Linked DNA regions of Homo sapiens. The protein of the gene in region 2 interacts with the protein of the main gene of each other region in a biochemical or structural test. Each region holds a gene or a part of one and is shown on either strand. Other genes may lie near its edges. The genes, in order: EVI5, PDZRN4 and CCRL2.

Region 1 (3,654 bases), on a different chromosome or scaffold from region 2:
TGTTGCATCAGAACGTGGCAGTTGTAACAATGCAGTGGGTATCATAACCTTGAGGAGGCCTTTGTGGTGCTATATGCCCTTTTCCTAAAGATTCAACTCCAAGTATAGATCCCTCTGTTCTGCCAAGGAGAATGGTATTATTTAAATTACGTTGTACCTCACTATAAATTTGTCCACTTGGTCTAGGGCACAGGAATATAGTTGAAGGTCTGCTTGGGCCAGACATCATTGTTCTGAGTCCCTGCATCCCTGCTGATTCTTGTTGTCATATACAAGCAGGGAAGTGCTGAGGTTTCTTCACTTCTTCCTGGAAGTCTTTCAGGAAAGCTGGGAGGTATTATGGTGAGGCTGTAATGTCTTTATTCTCAGGACCGTTAGTTTTGAAAGTGTATGTAATATTTCCTGAATATTTCACATTGCCTTTATCTAAAGAATTGAAAGATTGTGACTAGGAGTTTGTCCCTGAGAAACAAGGATGAGGGTAGGAGACGTGGAGCATATTTTAGCAAGATTCTTAATAGTCAGAGTAGATATTTGGTAGCTAATTCTTGTTTTTGGTTTTGGTTTTTTACTCTTCCACTTTATTGTAGGAGAAAATTCATGGTGCATGAGAGAAATGAAATAAGTGACAGAATGTCAAAATCAAACTTTAAAACATAAACTCTTGAGGGCAGAGCTGATGACTTAATTGTATGTGAGTAGAACTGGTACTGTCATGGTTGTGGATTTGGGAGTTTGAGGAAACTTGAGCAAAGAAGTGGCAGATGATGAAAATAAATCAGTTTTAATTCTGATAAAACTGGTTTTGGAAAATGTGGTTTAGATTTAAATGTGGCACAATTTTTTCAATACTAAACTCTAGAATTAGTCAGACTTGCCCACCCAGTAACAGGTAGCTTTTGACCTCCTTAAGCCTCCTTATGTGAGGGTCTTGTACTATAAAACTCCAGGGATTGAGGACTAGAGCCTCATTCTAAAAGATGGGAAGAAAGGGAAAAGAGATGAGTGAGGCATACCATTCCTCTCTCCTCCTCCCCACTAAGAGAAGCCTCACCTTCTCCCCAGGGGGAGTTGGGGAGAGAAGGCAGAAATGTTATACCGGACTGGCACTCCCCCCATGCAGAAGGAAACCTCATGAGTGGGAAGCAGCATTCCTCTCCCACAGTAAGTGACGGTGATATGCTGGCCTTTGGGCTATTATAACAGGATGGAGACTCTTAGCAAAGTTTTAATGATTTATAAATCATTTTCATCATTTACAGAACTATGGAGACATTCTCTCAAGATAGTGTGTGTGATAGTATGGTTTTTAAGTTCATACCTTCTAGAAATACCAGCAAAATATTTACAGATAAACTGATAGGATGTCTGGGGTTTACCTCAAAATTATCCAGGAACAAGAGGTGTGTAATGTAAAAAGATTGTCCATGATGGGTGTTACTTGTTGAAATTAGGTGATGGGTACATGGAGTCCATTATATTATCTCTAGTATAATGAAGATTTAGTTTGAATCTAAACTTTGCTACTAGCTATATATGTCCTTAGCAAGTTACTCTTCCTGAGTCTCCATTTCCTAATCTGTAGAATGAGAAAAGTAAATACTAAAATCTATCACATAGGACGGTTGTTATTATTCAATTAAAGTAAGTTACAGGCCAGGTGTGGTGGCTCACACCTGTAATCCCAACACTTTGGGAGACTGAGGCAGGCAGATTGCTTGAGCCCAGGAGTTTGAGACCAGCCTGGGCAACATGGTGAAACCCCGTGTCTACAAAAAATACAAAAAAATTAGCCAGGCATGGTGACACACGCCTGTAGTCCCAGCTACTCAGGAGGCTGAGGTGGGAGAATCGCTTAAGCCTGGGAGGCGGAGGTTGCAGTGAGCCGAGATCGCACCACTGCACTCCAGCCTGGGTGACAAAGTGAGACTGAGACCTGTCTCAAAAAAAATAAAATAAAAATAATTATGAGCCCATTATATATAACACATAGAAGGCACTCAAAAATTAGTAACTATGATTATACCTGTAAATAGAAAAATAATAAGGCATCTTCTTCCTTAAACATGGAATGTTTGCTTTTTGGCGTGTGTGTGTTTCCCCCATTTGACTGTATTAACTTGGATTTTGTTTTAACAGCTCAGGTGCCTAAAAGGCCAGAGGGGCTTCTCAGGCCAACCTCCTTTTGATGGAATCCACATTGTCAACCATTTAATAGGAGATGATGAATCATTCCATTCCTCCGATGAAGATTTTATAGATAATTCCTTACAGGAAACTGGTGTTGGTTTTCCTTTGCACGGAAAATCTGGTTCGATGTCTTTGGACCCCGCAGTGGCAGATGGTAGTGAGAGCGAAACAGAAGACAGTGTGCTGGAGACCAGAGAGAGCAACCAAGTGGTTCAAAAGGAGCGGCCCCCGAGAAGAAGAGAGTCGTATTCAACCACTGTCTGACCATCACTGTGACCTAGACTATGGATTTATTTAAGGGATCAGTTATCATATGATTAGGGCTTTTTGGAAATAATTTGTTTCATATGTACATATATATATATATATATATATATATATATATATATATATATATATATATATATATTTTACAGTCTTATCTGCCTTTTTATCTTTGCCAAATCTTTACCACTGATTTACCATTGCCATAAAGTAGACTGGTATATGGTTAATGTGTAAAACAAGGTTCTAACAGTATTACTGAATATTAATGTTTCTTGTTTAGAAAATGCAACTATATCTATATGTGGGAACCATTCTGAAGTTCAAAACTATGGAAAATTGAATTTTCTTCAGACAAAACTGCTCTTGTGCAATATTTTATGCTCAGTGAGCAAATTGTGTATTTATGTTTATCAATTTGTTCTCAAGGTGGCTGTCTACAGACATTTGACCAAGACATACATCTGATTTACCTTGTGTTTTTTTTTTTATTGTTGTTTTTTTTTTTAAGACAGAGATTCAGTCTGTCACCCAGGCTGGAGTGCTGTGGTGTGATCTTAGCTCACTGCAACCTCCGCCTCCCAGGTTCAAGCAATTTTCCTGCCTCAGCCTCCCGAGTACCTGGGACTATATGTGCGCACCACCACGCCTGGCTAATTTTTTGTATTTTTAGTAGAGATGGGGTTTCACCATGTTGGCTGGGCTGGTCTCGAACTCCTAACCTCAAGTGATCCACCCGCCTCAGCCTCCCAAAGTGCTGGGATTACAGGTGTGAGCCACTGCACCCAGCCTACCTTGTCTGTTTGTGTCTGGGAGGTTTTTTTTTTCTATTTTTATTTTTTCATGAAAATTATTGGTGGGCCACTGAAAGTCCCCACACACAAAGCCTTTATTCTATATAATTTTATAAACACAAATTCATGATTATCTGTTTTGAGAGTTTTAAGTTTTGTTTTAATGTTTAACTTTTATGTGCATATGATGCTTCCATGTGTTGGTTACTAGAGTAGTAGGTTAACTACAGACATACTGTTTTGTTTGTACATATTTATAAATCTGTACCACCTAACATTGAACATCATTTTATATGAAGAACATACATGTTGCAAAATGACTGCTTTCAGCATCTAACAGGACTTCTGTAAATAATAGGTTAAAAGTTAAAAATAAAACACTAATGTTTTAAGAGCTTTAGTATTT
Region 2 (3,654 bases):
GTTCTTTTTCAAATACATACTTGCAAAGTAAGTATAGGAAAATGTCAACCTTCTGCCACATTCAACCATCCTTAATTTTAAAGTTTTCCTCTTTTCACATGTCAGTTAACTTACAGTACATAAAAACTTATTGTAGGATTTATTTTTCTTTTATATTTTTACCTGGTTAAGTCATTTTATACATTTTTTTCTAGGATGGAGAGCATAAGCCATTCACTATTGTGTTAGAAAGAGAAAATGACACTTTGGGATTCAATATTATAGGAGGTCGACCAAATCAGGTAAAACACCTTGTTAATGCATTACTCGTTACTTATAAAATAAGCATTAATAAGCATTACTCATTGCTTATAAAATAATAGAGGACTTAGCTTTTGTTTGTGGATTTTGAGTAAGAAAAACAAGTGGTTTAATCTTTAAAATTATACTTGTGATCAAATATCAGATTTCTTAATGCAAATATTCCAGTACATACCCAGATTTTATTTATTTATTTATTTATTTATTTATTTATTTATTTATTTTGTTTGTTTGTTTGAGACAGAGTCTTGCTCTGTTGCCCAGGCTAGAGTGCAGTGGCACGATCTCAGCTCACTGCAACCTCTTCCTCCTGGGTTCAAGCAATTCTCCTGCCTCAGCCTCCCAAATAGCTGGGATTACAGGCTCCTGCCACCACACCCGGCTAATTTTTTGTATTTTTAGTAGAGACAGGGTTTCACATGTTGGCCAGGCTCGTTTTGAACTCCTCACCCCAAGTGATCCACCTCACGGTCTCCCAAAGTGCTAGGATTACAGGTGTGAGCCACCATGCCTGGCTCTGATTTTATTATTTTTTAATTTTTAAAAATTATTTTCTTTTTGAGTTGGAGTATCACTCTGCAGCCCAGGCTGGAGTGCAGTAGCGTGATCTCAGCTCAATGCAACCACTGCCTCTGGTTCAATTGATTCTCCTGCCTCAACCACCCAAGTAGCTGGGATTATAGGCGTGTGCCACCACGCCCAGCTAATTTTTGTATTTGTAGCAGAGAAAATACAAAATGTTGGCAAAGCTGGTCTCGAACTCCTAATCTCAAGTGATCCACCTCCCTCACCTCCCAAAGTGCTGGGATTACAGGCTTGAGCCACTGCACCTGGCCTTTATTTTTGAGAAAAACAAAAAACAACAGCTAGCAAACTTGGTTCTCTTTGCTACTTTAAAAGAAGAAAAGGAAAGTACATTTCACATTTTATCTAAATTTTATTGTCCTTTTGGCAAATTTCTTGAATAAACCTATTTCACAATACCATGTGTAGGCAATTTCTATTTGATAATATTAGGCAATTGTATTGCCTGCTTAAACCTATTTATTAAGTGCAATTACTCAGTTTGAAGATGCTAATACAGACTAGGAAGAAAATTATATTGAATGAATGAATGAACAGTTGAAACAAGGGATGATTGATTTCAATAGGAAGTACCATGTTAAAGAAAAACAGTTGATTAGAAATATTTTTGGCTCCCCAAACCGAGTTCTTTGTTTGATTGCATGAATAATATTCTTCATGTTGATGTCAATTGTTTTCAAAATGCATATTTTAAACTTATAGAATATACTGTAGTTGCAAAGTTCTTTTATATCTTTGAATTCCTGTGTCAACTTAATTTTCACCGTAACTGGAAAAAGGTGGTTAAGTTTTAAAAAATGATGTTCTTTAATTTTTCTCAATAAACTGCCATGAAATTTTTGCATCCTGCATTGCAGATGTTGTACAAGGAAACTGTCTTAGTGTTGTTGGCCATATGCTCTGTTTAGGTAAGGATGGCAGTGACATATTTCTTCCTTGTTTTTAGTATTTTGAAAACTTAGCAACTAATGACTGCTGTGCTTCTCTTTTTAAAACAGTCCTCATTTATTAAGATGAAAGCCTTTTCATCATAGCATTTTCGTTATCATTTTCCCTAAGGAATATTTTTATAGATTCTATTTTGGTATTTGACATTTAGATGACATCGGGCCTTTTTAAAAAGTCTCTTAAAATTCATGATAAGGACAGCTAAAGAGAAATAATTTTATTTAACCTGTCATGAAGTCAAATGACATTTAAAATTATATAATGTATTATTATAGGATGTTGGATATTTTCCCCTAAATAAGCTTTGACTTCTTGTGACTGGCTAAAATGTCCTATTTTTACCATATTGGCTATGTTTGAGGTTTAACTAATCATGAGTCAGACTGCACCTGGAAATATGTAACGATGAGTTTGCATGGGTTCCCTTTTGCATAGGTTCCCTTGCAGTTTAGATGTGATCTTTTGGGATTTTACACTTGAGTAAGCTACCAGTGTCTCTTGTGAATAGACACAACTAGAGCTATGTTTCTAAATCTGGCACATCAAAAAGCTAAATTACATTTCTAAACTCTACCACATCTCAAACCAGTTATACAGTGGGAACCAGATATATGTTTTTTTCCTTCTTTAACCTTATCACCCTTTTACTTGCTGTCTCTCTTTAGAAGTGAGATGTTTTATAAATAATACTTAAAAGCCAGTTTATTTCACCTTGTACATGCCCTTTCCCATAGCTTTTTTATGTGAACTCAAAAATGTGAAGTAAATAGATAATCTTGTCAGAGACCCTGGACTCATTCATTAAAACTGCCACCTTGATTAATGACTAGTTGGTGTTAAGTAAGTTAAAATTCTGTTCCAAATCCCCAGCTAAGAGAGTTGCAGGTTTACAGAGGATTGGTAATGTTACATTTGGTAAATTGTCCCTAATAATATTTAAATTTTGCTTACATCTTTCTTCTGCTAATGATTTTTTAAAAATAGAATAATCAGGAAGGAACATCGACTGAAGGAATTTACGTTTCAAAAATTTTAGAAAATGGACCTGCTGACAGAGCAGATGGCCTGGAGATTCATGACAAAATCATGGAGGTAAGACAATGATAAAACATGTATATGATCCATGCAAGAAAGATTGGGATATTTTAAGTTTTCAAATTTACCACTTTACCTTGGTGTGGTGCTTATTAGAATATACATTCTTAGTAGCAGTAAAGGCATTATCATTTTTACTTTCTTACAAAAAATGTAAAAGTCACTGGGAGAGGTGGCTCATGCCTATAATCCCAGCACTTTTGGTGGCTGAGGCAGGAGCATCACGTGAGCTTAGGAGTTCGAGACCTGACTGGGCAACATTGTGAGACTTCATCTCTACCAAAAAACAAAACAAAAAAATTAGCTGGGCATGGTGGCACATACCTATGGTCCCAGCTACTCAGGAGGCTGAGGTGGGTGGATCACTCGATGTTAAACCCAGGAGGTCAAGGCTGTGGTGAGCTGTGTGTAGGCCACTGCTCTCTAGCCTAGGCAACAGAGCAAGACGCTGCCTCCAAAAAGAAGTAAAACTCTATTATGATTCTATATAATTCGTTAGATATTGTGATGAAAGAATAAAATGCCTGAAGTTTTCAAATGTGTTAATGAATACCTCTGTTTTAATAACCTGTGTTTCCCATGAACTATGATGTCACTTGCTTGATTATTAAAGGATTAATTATTATAACATTTCAAAAAAGGATGATAAATCTCTGTTGAGGAACATTTCTGATGAGGAACTATGATTATATTTTAAATTTGTAATTAATATTTTATATGTAGAGT
Region 3 (3,754 bases), on a different chromosome or scaffold from region 2:
CAAGCGTAGGCTCTGAGCAAATGCTACCAGGGCTGGAGAATCAGTTCTGCCACTTCCTAGTTATGTGATCTTAGACAAATTTCCGCGCCTTAGTTTTCTTCTCAGAGAAATGAGACTAGTCCTATCCACACTATGGACAAGTGGTAGGAGGCGAAGGAGCTCACGTTTGTAAAGAGCCTTGCACGGTGCCTGAGACAAATTCAGTGCTTAGCAAATGTTAGCTCACCTCTCCCTTTTCTTCCTGTATCCGATTTTGTATACAAATGTGTAGAAAATTTACATGAAATAATGCAGAAAGATGAAAATCCATGTTTATTCTTCTTGCATTTGGTGGATGCTAGTTTACACTTCGGTGGAATGGTCAGGTTCTTCCCTCGATGTGCCTTGTGCAGACTGCCCCCTGGGTTGAAGTGGGGTGTTACTACGCAGATGGAAACAGCGGCAGAGGTATTTGCTAAATGTCCCATCAAGAAACGCATACAGGAGAGGGTTGATGCAGCAGTGGGTGGTGGCGATGAGTTTAGTGATGTGAACACTTTTGTCCAGATTGTAGCTGCTCTTGCAGTCACTCAGGGAGAAGTGTTCTTTGAAAGTGGACAGGAAAAATGCAATATTGTAGGGCGCCCACATCAGAAGGAAGACTACCATTATGGCAAAAACAAGCTTGAAAAGGCTATACCTCTGCTCCCTGAACCTTAGTGTTTTTCTCATTTGCACATAGAGAAATGTAAAAATAAATAGGGGGAGGACAAGAACCGAAATGTTCATTTTTAAAGTCAGAAAATGCTTCCAGAATGTCTCATCAGCTGGCAGGAAGGGAGTTCTGCTAAATGCACACTTGTATTTCTGGTCTTCCATCTGAGGTTTATAAACCACGAATTCAGGCAAAGTGGCCAGAATGGCTGTTACCCATGCCAGGACACTTGTAATGATGCCACAGGGCACCCTCCTCCTGGCTGAGAAAAAGTTTCCCTTGTGCAAAAACACTAGGTACCTTTGCACAGTCAGAAGGCAATTGAAAAATGTCTCACTGTACAGGCCCACGAAGTACAGTCCAATGAGAATTTTACACATGGGATCGCCCCCAGCATGAGCCCAGAAGGGCAGGGTAAGCAAGAAACACAAGTTAGAAACTGCCAAGTTTAGAAGATAGATATTTTCCACGCGTTTGAGTCCTTTATATTTTACCAGGATAAGCACAACCAGGAGATTGTCCAGGACACCGATCACAAACACAGCAGAGCAGAGTGATGGCACCAGCTGGGCTGAGAGTGCCTGGGCGTCATACTTGTCACATTGCTCTGCCTCATCGCTCTCCAGTTCACCTTCTATGAGGACATCATATTCATCCTCTGGTGCCAGCGTGTAATTGGCCATCTTCAGACTGCCCTGTGGAGAAATGGGAGATGATTTTCCCCTCCGACAGCTGCCTTATCCTGGAGGAAACAACAAACTGGACCTGGATTCATACAGCCCCACTTTCCCTTTCTGGAGCTACATTTTAGCCAGAGTAATTCCCTATTTCAGAAGACTGAAATAAACATTTCTTTAACGTGTGCCCACTTCCCCAGAGCAGCACCATTCCCAATCTAGTTGTTAAGCATGTAAGTGCTTAGCAGTGTGCCAGGTGCCACGGGAAATAAAGCTGGCATGACACCGCCTTGGTAGAACTTACCTTCTTTTAGCAGAAACAGGACTTGCCTACATGAACACAATATGTAAGAAAATATATAATTAAAGAGAACCAAGTACGATGGCTTACTTTTAAGAAACGGGTGTAGATCATAATTTCTGCATTTTAAAAAGTTTGCTCACCCCCCGAAGCAGCTTCCTGTGACAGCTGAGACGTTTTTCTCTCGAAGGGTATAAATAAATGTTTGCAAAAGTGAAACCATGCTCAGCATCAACATGGCCATAAGGGGTTAAATACATAGATGACACACAGATGACTTACCACTGGGCTGAGCTCCTGCAGGGGAAGGGCGCAGCCTCCAGACCCAGCATCCGGGAGCTGTGGGAATGGCCCCGGACAGTGGATGCCCTCCTTTTGATCAGACTGCTCCTGACCCTGAGGGGCACGAGAAACCACTGTTGATTCCCCTGGTGGCTCTACCCGCCCCACTCACCGAGCTCAGGGACCAACTGAAATAAAGTACTCAAAAGCTCCCCCAGGCCTCCAGAGGATCTCTGAAGCGTCTGAAAGCAACCGGGAAGTTGTTTCCTCCTCCCTCTGGCCCTGTACCCCGCCTTTGATTTCCCTGTGACCTTTGACAGCCGTCTTCTGGCCTTCTGAGATAAGGGAACTGTGTCACTGCCGCTCTGAGTGGTAGCAAGGAAGTGATGTCAAGGTGCTGAGAACTGCCAAGACGCTCTGGCTTGTGGCATGTGACACTCTGAGTAGGTAACAGGTACCAGCTACTGTCAGCAGGGAGGAAGGTATGTGGTGACCACGAGTCCAGACCTGAGGGTCCTGACCCTCTAATGCGGCCTCTCACCAGTGTTCGCAGAAACCCACCCGCTGATTCAATACGGGGACCAGGAACCTGCCATGACAGTCACGGTGTGTTTGGGTTTTTATTGTCATTTTTGAGGGGCACTGTGTGCTTTGGTTAAGACTGAGGCCTCAAAAGAGAATTTTAGGAAAATGGAAGCCACAGGGTGATGTCAGCTGGGAAAAGGCCAGGGGCAGAGGTGGGGTCTCAGCGGCAGTGAGCATAGGGCTGCCCTGGGTGTCAACACTGAGGAAAGCAAAGGGGTTTGCAAGCAGCCAGAAGTGATTGGTGCTGTGACTCATGGGGGAGCTGACCCCACTCGGAAAAGGAGAACCCAGAGGAGGAAAATCCCGTGGTGATGACACAGAGGCGACATCAAGTTGGGTGGGAGAGAATGTGAGGAGGACAAGTTTAACCCCAAACTGAGGCTGGGGGCTAGGGTAGGTTTGAGTCCAGAGAGAAGGAAATTGAGAGAACAGCCCAGATTTGGAATGGTGGGAGGAGGCTGTGGGGAGGGGAGGCTGTGGGAAGAGAGTGGGACGGGGAGGGCACGGTCTGGAAGAAGGACGAACCGAGAAGAGGAACTTGAAAATAATGAAAAAATCTAGATGAGCTTCTCTTGGGTCAACGACTCAGCAGCTGTGACTAACCTAATTTGGGGATCAGACCTATTTGCTTAGAATTTATATATTGATTAAATGACATCCTTTTCCCACCAAAGATGTGTCTGAGGTAGGATTGAATACAAAATTTGTACCTGTCAAAATAGAAATAGAAAATTAAGAAACTAGCCTGGCACTGAGGCGCATTCCTACAGCCCCAGCTACTCAGAAGTATGAGGTGGGAGGGTCGCTTGAGCCCAGGAGTTTGAGGCCAGCCTGGGCAACATAGTGAGATCCCGGATCTATAAACAATATAAAAATTAGCCAGATGCAGTGGCAAGTGCCTGTAATCCCAGACATTCCAGAGGCCAAGGTGGGATGTTCACGTGAGCCCAGGAGTTGGAGGCTGCGGTGAGCCATGATCATGCCACTCTGCACTCTGGCCTGGGTGGCAGAGCGAGACACTGTCTCTGGAAAAAAAAAAGAAGAAGGAGGAGGAGGGGCGGGGAGAGGAAGGGAGGAGAGAGAACTATTAAGAGAAAAATAAACACAGAAAGAGCCCAGACAAATATGTGATTGAGCATTAAATTTAACTCCACGTGTGCCGACAGACAAGGCAGAAAGAGAAACACAATGATGTTTGATGGCAGAGGAGTTGGT

Evidence for each region.
Region 1: the proteins of PDZRN4 (region 2) and EVI5 interact in a test that uses a peptide from one of them, tested with the Homo sapiens proteins (one large-scale study listed by IntAct).
Region 3: the proteins of PDZRN4 (region 2) and CCRL2 interact in a test that uses a peptide from one of them, tested with the Homo sapiens proteins (one large-scale study listed by IntAct).

What each region holds. Positions count from the first base shown.
Region 1 is NC_000001.11:92,512,456-92,516,109, reverse strand, and holds part of EVI5 (ecotropic viral integration site 5 protein homolog), read left to right. Parts: intron 1-1,065; coding exon of another isoform or gene 1,066-1,164; intron 1,165-2,139; coding exon 2,140-2,454; 3' UTR 2,455-3,654. UniProt on the Homo sapiens protein: Functions as a regulator of cell cycle progression by stabilizing the FBXO5 protein and promoting cyclin-A accumulation during interphase. May play a role in cytokinesis.
Region 2 is NC_000012.12:41,191,264-41,194,917, forward strand, and holds part of PDZRN4 (PDZ domain-containing RING finger protein 4), read left to right. Parts: intron 1-194; coding exon 195-281; intron 282-2,817; coding exon 2,818-2,925; intron 2,926-3,654.
Region 3 is NC_000003.12:46,405,703-46,409,456, reverse strand, and holds the start of CCRL2 (C-C chemokine receptor-like 2), read right to left. Parts: upstream 2,199-3,754; 5' UTR 1,955-2,198; intron 1,843-1,954; exon of another isoform or gene 1,787-1,842; coding exon of another isoform or gene 1,763-1,786; intron 1,390-1,762; coding exon of another isoform or gene 1,378-1,389; coding exon 343-1,377; 3' UTR 1-342. UniProt on the Homo sapiens protein: Receptor for CCL19 and chemerin/RARRES2.